Homo sapiens: one gene and its partner. The protein of the gene in region 1 purifies or fractionates together with the protein of each later gene. This does not show direct contact. Each region holds a gene or a part of one and is shown in the gene's direction. Other genes may lie near its edges.

Region 1 (7,231 bases):
TACAGACACGAAATTATTTGAGGTACTTGGTAGAAATATACTGAGAAAAATCCAAGGAAGAGGAAAAATGTATTTTTACATGGTTTGTGTTTGGTTGAGTAAAATTTAAATAACCAAGAAATTTAATTTTCACTTTTCTCAATTATTACGGTCATATAAATGATGAGAGCTAATGAACTTCAGTGATCAGAGGAAACTATTAACAGTGATAATATAATAATACTGATTTATTCTCACTTGAGTTTTTTCCTTAAGGTCTGACACCATGCCAATTTCCACAGACCTGTAACTTTAAGTTACCTTAAGCTGGGCCTGGTGGCTCACGCCTGTAATACAAGCACTTTGGGAGGCCGAGGTGGGAGGATTGCTTGAGACCAGCAACAACATAGTCAGACCACGTTTCTACCAAAAAAGAAAAAAAATTAGCCTGGTAGTGCACGCCTGTAGTACCAGCTACTTGGGAGGCTGAGAAGGGAGGATTGCTTGAACCCAGAAGGTTGAGACTGCAGTGAGCTGTGATTGCACCATTGCACTCCAGCCTGGGCAACAGAGTGAGTGAGACCCTGTGTCAAAAATAAAATAAAAACACCTAAATTTCATATGAAAATTCAGTTTGGAGTCACCTACAAGAAATAGTTGCTAGAAGAGTTTCATTTTTATAGTAGTATTTACTAGAGATTTGGTATATACTCTGGTGCAAATTTCTGTAGTTAATGCTCTGATAACCACTATAATTGTACTCTGAAAACCACTCTCAGTAAATATTTCCCAAAGTCCAAAGTCTTGATTATTTTGTTTGACCCTTTCGTTCTCACCTTTCTGTTTTTCTTTTCAGCTGATTTTTCTCATTTATGTAGGTAATTTTTGTCTTATTAGAGAGGAGTGAGTTGACTAACTTGCCTTGAGGAGAATATCACTTTGTGATTAATCAAACTATTCAGATATTATTATTACTGTTGTTTTGGAACTTCAGTATATTTGTAAGTTAGAGGCAGTAATTCAGCTGACATTTATTGCTAATGACCTCAGCCATTTGAAACATAACAGCAATCCTGGACATAAAAAAATCTCTAAGCCTTCAAAATGACTGCAACCAAGTATAATAAGCCATTAGCCTTTATTAGGAAACTACTAATTGGAATTAGTCCACAGATAAAAATCTTCAGTGTTGGCCATTGGAGTTAGGGACATTGGCAGCTGAAATGTCATCTACAGGGGAAAAGGAAGAACTATTAAAAAGTAGGTGGAACTATAGTAGAATAGTGTTTTAAGGCCATTACATAAATACATACACTCCTATAATCATTAACTTCTGAAGGAATGACAGTATCGTAGAGCAGCCTAGTAAGTTGATGCATCACAATGATAACTTTAATAATGAACTTTTATTCTGTGTACTATGTTTAAGGAAGTAAGAAATTGGTGTCTTTTGAGATTGCTATAAAAGTAACCATTTTCAAAACTCTGTTAATTAAATGTTAAGTTTCAATTTTCTGGAAAATTTACGTGTAGATCTCTCCTTATCAGATGACACCAAATAAAAATGGTGCTACTGTGTATGGAACTTCCTTTGTTTTATTATTTTAACCTATTTATCTTTCTACTTAATATTTCAAGGAATTACTCCCAAACAAGGCTCTATTACATTTAATATTTGATATCAGTAATGAACAACCAATTGCCTAAAGATTAGCACATTTGCTAATGGAGAAGATAGTAAAGCAGATAATTAGAATTAGTAAATGACCTATGCATATGATTCAGTTGTATAGTTTTGAATCCTGGTATTGAGTCTATTAGCCCAAGTGTCCTAAGGTGCCAGGTTTTTGTAGTGAGTTTTTTTCATTGCATTGCTGGCCTCCTCTGTCTCATTTACTATGTTAATTTAAACCTTATGCTTCCATTAGTGGTAAAGTAGATAGTCTTTGACTTGTGTATAAGGGGTGTGTATGTATTTTAATGATTTTGAAAGCTGGTTTGAGGAATTAGATTTTGGGAATTAATATAACAATTATTAGCATTTTGATATATTTCTTCCATTATTTTAATGTATATTTTTTATGTATTTGTGGGTAAAAACATTTAATTTCATGTCCTGCTTTTTAACCTACTGTTAGGTACCACTTTCCCATTCTCACAATGCATCTTAATAACTATCATTATAAATGATTGTAAAATGTTCTGTGCAGTGAACATATGTTATTCCCCTATGTGAAGAACATATTTATACATGTTTCTTGTATATAGTATTATCTCTCTCTTGTATATTGCCAGAATTGATTTTTTAGGTACATTTTGAAGGCTCTTAAAACATACTGAACAATATTAATCAAAAGGGATAAATTTGTATTCTCTTTCGAGTGGTTGTTACCCTATACTCATCAACATTTAACATTTTTTATAAAGGTTTAATGGGGGTGTATGACATATTGTGCTTTATTTATTTAATTACTGAGGTGAAGCATGTTTATAGATGTATTTATCTTGTGAACTTTGAAGATAAATAGATTTTAACATTATTGCAGTCAAACATCTTTTTGTTTGTTTGTTTTGAGACAGAATCTTGCTCTATTGCACAGGCTGGAGTGCAGTGGCACCATCTCGGCTCACTGCAGCCTCTACCCCCCGGGTTCAAGCAATTCTCCTGCCTCAGCCTCCTGAGTAGCTGGGACTACAGATGCACACCACCACGCCCGGCTAATTTTTGTATTTTTGTAGAGATGGGGTTTCACCATGTTAGTCAGGCTGGTCTGGAACTCCTGACCTGAGGTGATCCACTTACCTCGGCCTCCCAAAGTGCTGGATTACAGGGGTGAGCCACGGTGCCTGGCCCAAACATCTTGATATAATTTTGTTCTGCTGATTTTATGAAATTCCTCCCTTTTCAGAACTGTAATAAACAATATTGGTTTAATTCTGTTTGTTTAGTTTTTCTAAGTTAGATTTAAATAAATTTAAGTTTTTACCTCATCTGGCATTGGTGTGAAATGAGAATCTAAATGTTTTCCTCCAAATTGGTAATTTTCTCAACTCTGTTAAATAATGCTTTATTTAATTTTTTAATTTTTCTCATTTTTTTGTTATGCTTCATTTTTACATTTTAATCATTTTTATTTTAAATTGTTTATTTTTACCCCAAGCCTTAAGAACATTCATATTGTTTTTAGATGATTCTGTGATATGTTTAATATCTTTTGCCTTGGCTTTCTTATTGTGGTGTTTGTTTCCTTATTTATTTTTAAGATTACTGTAAGTTGAGGATAATAAAGTTTATTTTTTAACAAAACAATGTTTTATAATTCCTTTTCTTGTCAGCCAGAATTTGAAATAAGATTTTTCCATACCACATAATTTGGTTGCATTAAATGAAAATTTCCCCCTTTTTGAACAGAGATAAAATGTGAAACTACTTAAAAGTACTATGCTGGCCACAGTGGCTCATGCCTGTAATCCCAACACTTTGGGAAGCTGAGGTGGAAGGATCGCTTCAGCCCAGGATTTGGACACCAGTCTGGGCAACATAGTGTGACCTCGTCTCTACAAAAAATACACAAAATTAGCCTGGTGTGGTGGCGTGCGCCTGTACTTTCAGCTACTGTGGAGGATGAGGTGGAAGGATCACTTGACCCCAAAAGATTGAGGCTACAATGAGCCCAGATTGCGCCCCTACACTCCAGCCTGGGTGACACAGTGAGACCCTTGTCAAAAAACCCCCAACCAACAAGTACAGTACTAGAGACTGTAAGGAGTAAAACTACTTTGGCAGATTTTGGGGAATTAGAGAAATTAACTCCTAAGATTAACAGTTTAGGATGTATGCTTAAAGTGTTAAACAGCAGTATACAACTTGATATCATATACCTCTAAGATATTTAGTGAAAAAGTTTCATTTAACAGCTGTAGGACTCAGGTTACAGAATCACAATACCTTCTTCAAATGTTGAGATAGCAATATGATACATTTACTGAAATTTAATAGCATAGACATTCAGGTAAGCTTTAGGAAGGTATCTATGTCAAAGAGCATTTTTAATACTGAGAGTGCTTACTGTTTACTATGATGCCTTTTTTTCTGTTATGAAATAATTTGTGATCTCAAAATAATTGAAAAAAGGTATTTATGTTTGTTTACATTTTGAAATTGTGATGGCTACAAAGCTGTTAATTTTATTAAATGGCTTTAATGTTTTCTGTTTACAGATTTTTCTGGTTACAATAATGCTAGTAAGAAAAGCCAGATTTAAGTAACTTTGAGTGTGAAAAAATAATAAATATTTGAAAAAAAAAAAAGTGTGTCCTGTGCTTGAAGAACACCTACAGAGAACTGAAGATGAACAATTCGATGTGATGTAATTTCCTTCTGTCTTGGGTTATGGTGAGATTTAAAGGGATTGGAACATAACTTAACACCTTTTTTTCCTACTGGAATTCGGCTGCCACATGAGAGATGAGTTGCTTTTTCAAAATGTCACTGAAATTGTCCAGGAAATAGCGTTGCTAATTATATTCTGGCACTATTTACCCTCCTTACTAGTTTTTAAAGTTTTTTTTTTAATTGGTCAGAAGTTAAAGGAAAATAGATCCTGCCGTTGTTACACACTTTCCCGTTGGAAAGCAGATTGATGTGTTTCATAAATAAAATGAAATAATGCTTTTAGGTGGCTTGGCTGTATTATAGAGGGAACTACCAAGATTATTTCTCCTGGCAAAGGGGTGTGTGTGAGATTTATCCACTAATAGCCCTTGAAGAACTTTGTAATACTTCTCTCTTTTTTTATTTACATTTTTTTATTTCCATAGATTATTGGGGATGTAATACTTCTCTATATTAACTCTCCACTCTCCACCCCAAACCTATGATTCTTACCTGAACTGTCTTCACTATATGTAGATTTTTATGGTGTTTTTGCAGTAATGTTTCTTTTTTTTTTTTTTTTTGAGACCGAGTCTTACTCTGTTGCCCAGGCTGGAGTGCAGTGGTGTGATCTCGGCTCACTGCAACCTCTGCCTCCTGGGTTCAAGCAATTCTCCTGACTTAGCCTCCTGAGTAGCTGGGACTACAGGCACACGCCACTATGTGCAGCTCATTTTTGTATTTTTAGTAGAGACGGGGTTTTGCCATGTTGGGGAGACTGGTTTTGAACTCCTGACCTCAAGTGATCTGCCCACCTCGGCCTCCGAAAGCGCTGACATTACAGGTGTGAGCCACTGCACCCGGCCAATGTGTCTTTTCCTAAGGAGAAATCTCCTCTTTTTCCTTCTTTTTAAATAAAGATAAATACAATTAAAGTATAATACACACAGAAAGTTCTCATAAATGTACACCTCAGTGAATTTTCACAGTGTGAGCACACTGGTGTAATCGTCACTAAGAAGAACACTGTCAGAACTCCAGAAACTTGTGTGTTTATTCCGGTCATTAATGGTCCCTAGGTGCCACCCCTCACCAAGAGAAATCACTCTTTTGATGTCTAGTACCACAGAATTATTTTATTTGCTTTTGAGCCTAGGATTTATACAGTATGTATTGTTTTTGTGTTTGGCCTTTTTTGCTCAATGTTATGTTTGTGAGATTCAGCTGTTTTATTGTGTCTTCATCCTGTTCTGATACGAGTAACCTGAGAAATCCTATAACTCAACCTGATTTGTACCTTGAGATCTCAACACTTAGACATTTTTCTCATGGCATTCATGGTTTTCAAGAACTCCTAGGAGGGGACATCAAATAAAAGCCTTCTTTGTTTTAAACTCTGTGGTAGACCTTTTTTTGTGTTTTAATGACCTTTTTTGTGTTTTATTGCTATTTGGGTAAATAGTAGATTTTAAAATTTATGTCACTGATGGCTTATGCAGTACCTCAGCTGCTTTTTTTTTTTTTTCCTACTTAAAAATTTTGTTTTAAAAACTATGGTACAGGATTCCTGGCCAGCTAATGGCTTTTTGGACTTTTATGACTTGGTAGCTTGCTTTTCATTCTTTGAATTCCTCAAGCAGTGATTCCCATTCTAATTTTTATGATACCATGTAGTATCTTCAGTTATTTCAAAGCATGTTGTGAGCCTCCCCACCAAGAAAAAGATTCCAATTTAAGTTTAAGCCACTTTACTTTCAAAATACTTAACATTTATGAACAGTACAACTTTTATATTTATGAACAGTACAACATTGTGGTGTGTAGATTATAAAATCAAATAGGCTGGTAAAAAATTGGGAATCAGCTAAGAGACTTACCTGCTTATTAACCCCTTTCAAGCTAGCTTCAAGTGTAAAGTGCAACTTTTATTTGTGTGTGTGTGACACAGTCTCACTCTGTCACCCAGGATGGAGTGCAGTGGCGCGATCTCAGCTCACTGCGACCTCCAGCTCCTGAGTTCAAGCAATTTTCGTGCCTCAGACTCCCGAGTAGCTGGAATTACAGCCGCCTGCCACCATGCCTGGCTAATTTTTGTATTTTTAGTAGAGGCGGGGTTTCTCCACGTTGTCCAGGCTGGTTTCGAACCCCTGACCTCAGGTGATCTGCCCTCCTCAGCCTCCCAAAGTGCAGGGATCACAGGCGTGAGCCACCCTGCCTGGCCGTAAAGTGCAACTTTCTTCTCAGGAGTTCTCCTTTTGTATTTTCTTCTCATTTCACTTTCTTAATTTTAAGGAAAGTCATAGTGAAAGATTTATGACTGTATTCCTGCACATAATTTTTCTTTCATATAAGTCCTATGGTTATGATATGCCTGGATGATATGCTTAATTTCCTTTTTAAGTGAATTTTAGTTATTTCAGTCAGTAAGTGTTAGGGCCAGAATATTATAAATGGCCAATAGTTGTTGAAATTAGGTATTTTGGTCATGATTAAGAGTGACGTGTATACTTAGCAGTCCTGTACTTCAGTCATCTTTTATTTGCTGAGCTTTTGTGGAAATTAAATGATTGTAAAGTTTTAGCCTACTTTCTAAAAAAAAATCACTTGTTTTTTAATCTGGAGAGTTTAAATGTCTGACTTTGGGGAAACATCATGCAATAGGGGAACATTATCTCCTGAAGAATGGGGGAGAGATGAACTAACTTTTGTAATGGTTATAGAGTTACTTCTAAATTTGAATAAATGCTGTTCTACCTAGTGAACTAGTCAGAGCATTTTCCACTTTGACCTAAGCCAAGCACATGGGTAGCTACTTCTCTTTCTGTAGTTAAGAGAATTTCACCAAGGATATTTTGATTTATTTGTAGCTATATGGCA
Region 2 (7,462 bases), on another chromosome or scaffold:
TGAGGCTGCAGCGAGCTGTAATCATGCCACTCCTCTCCAGCTTGGGTGACAGCGCAAAACCCTGTCCAAAAAAAAAAGGGGGGGCAAGTCCCAGTTTTGCCATTAAGCTTCTTGAGAGCCTAATGCAGGATGGCCTCTCCTTTCTCTCATCTCCTGCAGCGCTTAATATCAACAGCATGAGGGCTTGTCTGACTTCGCTGTGTAAGCTACTCGGAGAGCAGAGACCGTGTTAATGATCCCCGGGCTTCACTGACATTGTGTGGAAAGCACAGTACTTGCACATACTAGGCTTCCTTTTAATCTGACTGATTCCAAACGGCCCCTAACCTACAATGGTTTGACCTGTGATTTGATGTTGTGACTTTACAATGGTCTGAAAGCTGTAGGCATCAGCACATACCTTGACTTACGATGGCCTTGTCCAGATAAGGCCATCGTAAGTTGAAAATATCCTAAGTCAAAAATGATATTTTCAACTTACGATGGGTTTTTCAGGATATAGCCCCAGCCATCATAACTTGAGGAGCAGCTGGAGCTTGTTAGAGCCCAGTCAGTAAAACAAAAGGCCAGGAGCTGGGTGCCCTTAAATCTTGTACCTGGTGTGGACCTCACACACTCATCCAGAAAGTGGAAGGGCACTAGTGCCCTAGATCTGGCCTTGAGGTCCTCACACTCCTGATTAGGTTTTGTATAAATCACCTTATTAGAGACTGGACCCATAATATACATTGAAATGTTAACAGTCCTGCTCTCTGAGCAGTGAGAATAGGGGTGATTCTTTTTATTTTCTTCACTCTGCATTTCTAAATTTTCCAGATTTGAGATGAGGAAAAATCAGGTCAGTCCTTAATACTCAGAGGGAGGGGGATGACCTGGTTTTTGGTGGCAGAAGTGAGAATTCCTACTCTTTCATCTTAGATGGCAGTTACCTTACATAGATCACACACAAGATGCCTGTGTTTATGCCTTTCTCCCTCGTGAATTACTAGTTCTCATCATTATAGATCCATAGAATGTTAGAACTGGAAAGAAGGTCAGCTCCCCTGATGCTTATCCCCCTTCCTCAGACCATGGGTCTCTTGGAGACGGAAAGTCCTCTTCCGTTGGCCCCACAGCTGTTGTAACACTGCTTGCCTGTCATTTAGAGTGCCCATCATCATTCTCCTCTGCTGACAACCTCTGCCGCAAACTGGAGGACCTGCAACAGTTCCAGAAAAGGGAACCCGAGAATGAGGAGGAGGTGGACATCCTCAGCCTCTCCGAGCCAGTGAAGATAAACATCAAGAAGGAGCAGGAAGAGAAACAAGAGGAAGTCAAGTTCTACCTGCCACCAACCCCAGGGTCTGAATTTATTGGGGATGTCACACAGAAGGTAGGGGTTGTGGTGTTAATAGTTCATGCAGCAGACCAGCTCAGAGCTAGATGTTCAGACGTTCAGCTTCACAGACCCAGACCCAGGTGTTCAGCCTCACAGACACAGACTCAGACCCAGACTCTTCTGGTGCCGTAGATGCTTGACTTCCTTCTGCCTGGTTGACCCAGGTGTGCTCTCAGGGCTCCCACCGTCCCACATCAGAGCCCTTGGGCAGAAATGCTAATTACATGTGAAAACATTGCTTGTTGAACGCAGACGTGAAGCAAAGCTGGCTAGATAGAAATGGTTGATTACTCTTCATCTTGTTTTTCTCATCTGCCTCAGTAGAAGCACCTTTCCCTCATGAGGCACGTCGTACTCTTTCTGAGTTGCACGTCAGCGCGTAATCCTCCCCTGATGTGTTGATAGCTCCTGAGTGCCCCGCCTGTGGTGCAGATGGCGTGCACCTGCCTTACTATACAGGAGAGAGGTATTTATCCACCCTGCTGGAGCCTAACAGCTCTTCAGCATCTGCCAGTTGCTCAGGGCCCAAGGTGAAAGACAGTGTGCTTTCATTGGATGCCATGAAGAATGGGCAAGATGCAGTTTCCAAGTGCAAACAGGACGTTGGAGTCTGATTCCAGACCTTTCAAAGTGTTGATTGCGTATCAGAACCCAGGCAGATCCCAACCATGTTCTCCCACGAAGGAGATTTGAGAGATTTTAATAGGATTATAGTCATATTTTAAATATCAGCCAGAAATGTGGAAAAACAAGATAACATTCTTCTAGATGTTATATTCCGTGTTCCTTTCCCGTGAATTTTGCCCAATATGTTTGCAGAGTCCTCCTTCCAACCAGGCATCGCTTTGCATGTCAGGGAGGTATGCTTGTTTGGAGAGAGGCTGTTTCTAAAGCAGCGATACGAACAAACGGCTTTCTTCTGCTTTTCCAGATTGGGATCACCCTGCAGCCCGTGGCACTCCACAGGAACGTGTATGCGTCCGTGGTGGAGGACATGATCCTGAAGGTGGGTGCCTGCAGGGGCCGCCAGCCAGGAAGGATGGTTGCATCCCAGGCGGTTTGGAGTAAGGGGCAAGGACAGAAAAGGAACAAAGATAACAGGCTTTAAAATGTCTCGTCTTATTTGGGCTTAAGTTCTCTCTTTTTGTTTTTTTGTTTTTTTTCCTTCTGATTTTTAAATGGACTAAGTTATGTTTCCTCTGAGTCATGTGGTTTCAGGTGCCTCCTAAGACGTATTCTGGGGGTGGTGGTCAGTGTGCTCGTTGCTTTAGGAGGTGGCAGAGACAAAGCCTATGGTTTTCTGTACACGTCACAACAGCAAACAGCCCCAACTGTCCTGACCCTGGCAAGGGGACGAAAATGCCGCAGCCTCCTTCCCCAGCCTGATCCTAGCTCAGCAGTTCCTTTCCTCGTGGATCCTCTCCAAGAATAGGGATACCTCCGTAACAACTGCTTTCCTTAAATACAATGTCTAGGGCTGGGCGCGGTGGCTCATGCCTGTAATCTCAGCACTTTGGGAGGCCGAGGCGGGTGGATCATTTGCAATCAGGAGTTGGAGACCAGCCTGGCCAACATGGTGAAACCCCATCTCTACTAAAAATAAAAAATTAGCTGGGCTTGGTGGCGCTCACCTGGTAATCCCAGCTACTTGGGAGGCTGAGGCAGGAGAATCGCTTGAACCCGGGAGGCGGAGGTTGCACTGAGCCAAGATCGCGCCACTGCGCTCCAGCCTGGGCGCGAGAGTGAGACTCCATCTCAAAATAAATAAATAAATAGAATAATGTCTGATTAATGAAAATCACTCCAATTCATAATTTCTCAGAATCATGGCCTTTATCATTATGGTCTATTATTGAGGCCTTTAATTTTTTCTTAAGGACTTTTTAATCCCTAGTTGCAGTGGTTTCAAACATTTGGGGTAAGGGATGGGGTTAAATGTGTCCCTTCTTGCCAGCAAGCAGATGGCCATTTGAAGAATAACAGCATCTTCCATTGTAGGCTACAGAACAGCTGGTGAATGATATCCTGAGACAGGCTTTGGCAGTTGGATACCAGACAGCTTCTCACAACAGGTATTACTATCTCTGCAGTCTGTGGTGTGAGGCTTACACCTCTTTCCTAACAGTTGAATTGCCCATGAAGGTGTTTTATACTTACATCAATCCAGTAGGAGATGGAGTGAGTGCTTAGGACACTCTTAGAGCCAGATGAGCTCAAGGGTCTGCTTTGTCATTTTTAGAGAACCTCATGGTTGTGAAAGCTCACTCAGCTTTGCTCAGAGGTTTATATCCTCCTCATTACTTCACAGACACCTAGGACTCTGTTTTATTACAGGGTTGAATAAATATTAGCTTTGCAATTAAAGATAACAGTGTCCATTACATGTCAGACACGAGGGCCAAGCGTTGCATATATTACCTAATTTGTTTTTCATTGCAGAACTATTATTCTCTTTTTAAAAATCAGGAAACCGGGCTTTGAAAGGTAATTTTACCCAGCTTACCCAGCAAATACAGTGTAGACCTGGACTTCCGACTCAGGTCTCATTGGCTCTGAGGCCCCTGGGCTCGCCACTGCTCTTTGCTGACTCGTTGTCTTTGATTAAGACACTGAGTTTCAGTCTGTTCCTAGGCCCTGAAAGGATGGTAGATAGGCCACATCTGCTTTTCTTTCGGAGGAAACAAATATTATTTTATTGCATTATGCTAAAGGCTGTCACAGATTTATAAAATTGTAGCAAAGTGCCTGAGGACATGAAGGGCCTAAATCAGAGGAATAGTAGATGAAACTTCACAGGAATATATCAGACAACATAGGCGTCTTTAGAGAAAAGGAAGGGGAACCAAGAGTTCCGGTCCTGCTGCCCACTGTCCTGCTTGGACCCACAAGTGAGCCAGGGCCTCCTGTGGCCCCTGCTTACCTCTGTGCTCCCTGTCCTGGAGGGGTAGAGTGACTTAGGTGCTTTTGATGGAACGATTAACATCACGCCTGGCCTGGCGTGGCTCCGTCTCCCGTCTTTCTAGGAGATGGGAAATAAGGTCCCAGAGTTTTGTGGTGCTTTGACTCAGCTTTCGGTCTGCTGAGACTCACTCACAAATGTGTCATTCCGTTCTGCCATCCGCTTTGTTTTCTTTCTCTTTTCTCAGTTCTCAGAATCTTTTTTCCTAATTATTCAACCAACTTGTTGACATCCTTCTCATGCCTATGACAGGAAGGCAGTCCTCACCCCAGAGTGGCCCTAAGCTATGTCTGTGGCTCAGGAGCCCTCTCCACGGGGCCTCTGCCTGGGATGGTCCCTGTGATGAGTTAAGTGAATAAATGATGAGATATACGTGAGAGAATTTCACCTGGTAACACCCTTTGTTTTTTGGACCAGGATTCCCAAAGAAATTACAGTGAGTAATATTCACCAGGCCATTTGCAACATTCCTTTTCTGGACTTCCTCACAAACAAACACATGGGAATATTGAATGAGGACCAGTGAGCGGAGTGAGGTGCCCTGGAGAAGCAGGCTTTGAAGGCACAGCGAAGCTGTAACTGAGGACCCTGCTGCTCGGGAAGGAGGTGGTTTCCAGTGTGACTCGGCATGTCATGGCTACCCAACCTTTGCCGCTGCCTGTTCCCACGTGTCACCAGCACGCTGCACTCCAGATGAAATCCTCCTAGGACAGGAGTTTGTTTCCTGAGTGTGGAGTGAGGCTGTCAGTGGATCCGTGCTTTGTCGGCCAGCGTTTCTGCAGTCTTTGTAAAGGCCCCACGAGAGCGGGCCAGGCCGTGTGCCTCAGGCCCTTCTCCCTGGGTGTGCTTAAGGGGGCTCCTTGGGCCCGCCTCCCCAGGAGGTAGAAAATGAGTGGCAGGCTAGAGATTTCACCCATTTTGTGGGCTGGAGTTACCAGTAGCTCCAGCAGTTACCCTGAAGAGAGATTGGGCTTCAGCCTTCAGCAGGTGGTTCTCTCCCATGCCTGGCCTTGGTGTGGAGGGGCTGTACTCTGAGCCCAAGTGAGTCAGCTATAGGAAGAGGCCATACCTAGAGCCAAGAACCATGAAGGCCTGAGAGACGGCAGACTGAGCAGAATTCCTTTTTTGAGCACGAGAGCATTACTAGAACCATTGTCAAAGCAGTGGCAAGGGACGGAGAGGTCCCAACAGGAGTCAGGAAGAGGTTTGATTATAACCAAGAAAACTCACTATGCTAGGAATAGACTGTGTGCACCAGTCCCAGACACTTGGCAGAAGTGTAGCAGCGTTACACATGTGTGCGAAGCAGATCGCAGGTTCCACGCCATCTGCATGGCCTGCAGGAGCTTCTGCTGCTGACCCCATGCTGAGTGGCCAGTGGGGAGCGGCGCCCGGCAGGCTCTTCTGGGGTCGTCTGTCCTATCCGTGGATTGTATATACTCTTCTCTGTTAAGGAGTTTTTCCCAAGAAGAAAAGTATTTAAAAGAAATACCAGTGAGTGCCTTAAAGTTGGAGAAGTAACTGCCCATGCCCAGAAATAAGGATGCCAGTGCCCAGAAGCAGTGAGATTAGTCTGTGTCCACAAGCAGAGGCCCCCTCGATGGGAGGGAGTGGCAGGCAGGAGAAGGTGGCGCTGCCAGGTGCCCGGGTCTATTGGAGGCGCCCCATCTCAGACTTCCTAACACAGCCTGTGTGGAAGGCAGAACAAAGAATGCATGCCCAGTCAGAAATCTGTTCTATTCTGCTCCAGGAAAATCGGAAACCTGTGAGTCAGAGTCAGAGAAACTTACCCAAGCAACGTAATTCCTGTTTTCATGGGTCCTGTAGATGTTTGAGTCAGGAAGGTAAGGCGGGGAGTGACTGAATAAACTCTGCCTTTTAAATTGAGCATCTGGGCCGGGCATGGTGGCTCACGCCTGTAATCCCAGCACTCTGGGAGGTCGAGGTGGGTGGGTCACCTGAGGTTGGGAGTTCGAGACCAGCCCGACCAACATGGTGAAACCCCGTCTCTACTAAAAATACAGAAAATTAGCTGGGCATGGTGGTGTGTGCCTGTAATTCCAGCTACTCGGGAGGCTGAGGCAGGAAGAATCACTTGAACCCAGGAGGCGGAGGTTGCAGTGTGCCAAGATCATACCACTGCACTCCAGCCCTGGTGACAGAGGAGACCCCGTCTCAAAAATTGATTGATCAATTCAGCATCTGAGGGCTGCAAGTACAGAAGGAATCTATTCTCAGCAGGGCATAGGGCACGCACTGGCTTAACAGTTTAGTATATAAGGCTCAAATAGTCTATACCTGAACTGCTATAAGCAAGGTCGATAGGGAAGTGGATAGATTGCTTCAGCAAAGTGAACTGTGAGATCTCCAGGACAGAGGGAGAAAGATCTGATCCAAATGAGAACAGATTGGTTATTGCAGGTATCACAGCCTAAAGAAATTATCTTTTTGCAAAAGAAATATTAAATGATTTAGCAGTCTCCACGTGTGTTAATGTTTCAAACGTGTATCATAATGTGTATAATTGTGTAACAAAATTGTCTACAATAAATCTTTTGGTATTTGTGGTGGGTGTTTCTGAGTTTGAAGCATGGTACTCAGGCAGGGTTCTCCCTGCACTGGGATGAGGTGATGGTGTAGAGTCTTATTGATATGTTTAAATTAATTCCTCTACTTCTTGCCAAAAAAAAAAAAATGTTGCAACCGTATAAGATAAAGGATTACAGTTACATAAAAGTCTAAAAAAAATTTGGAAATGGACATAATTATTCCTGACAGCTTGGGGCAAAAGAAAACTGCATAAATGAGCTCAGAGCTTCCTTAAAGCCAAGGCAGAGAGAGAATCAGCTCCTCGTGTCTAACAAAGAAACATACCGGGTTATCTGGCAGGGTAAAATTGGACTGTGTTGAGGACTGAAACAAGTCACTCCTGTGACACGGTCCTTATGCTGTGACCATCTGCTAGCATATGGCTCAGAAATAGTGAAAAATCCAGAAACGTAAGAGCTGAAAGATTTTGAAAGCTTTGGTTCTTCAAAGGCATTATGATACAGTCCAAGTATGTAACTTTCTGGGGACCAGACTTTGCTGAGAGTCATAATGGAGAGTCAAAGAGTCTGATGGCT

What was found.
Region 2: the proteins of ZZZ3 (region 1) and YEATS2 purify together in Homo sapiens (affinity purification with mass spectrometry; 3 studies listed by BioGRID, with this or other methods). This does not show direct contact.

The regions. Positions count from the first base shown.
Region 1 is NC_000001.11:77,672,659-77,679,889, reverse strand, and holds part of ZZZ3 (ZZ-type zinc finger-containing protein 3), read left to right. Parts: intron 1-7,231.
Region 2 is NC_000003.12:183,805,721-183,813,182, forward strand, and holds the end of YEATS2 (YEATS domain-containing protein 2), read left to right. Parts: intron 1-1,145; coding exon 1,146-1,372; exon of another isoform or gene 1,373-2,309; coding exon 2,310-2,384; exon of another isoform or gene 2,385-2,392; intron 2,393-3,009; exon of another isoform or gene 3,010-3,132; intron 3,133-3,376; coding exon 3,377-3,450; intron 3,451-4,298; exon of another isoform or gene 4,299-4,731; intron 4,732-4,754; coding exon 4,755-4,863; 3' UTR 4,864-6,904; downstream 6,905-7,462. UniProt on the Homo sapiens protein: Chromatin reader component of the ATAC complex, a complex with histone acetyltransferase activity on histones H3 and H4. YEATS2 specifically recognizes and binds histone H3 crotonylated at 'Lys-27' (H3K27cr).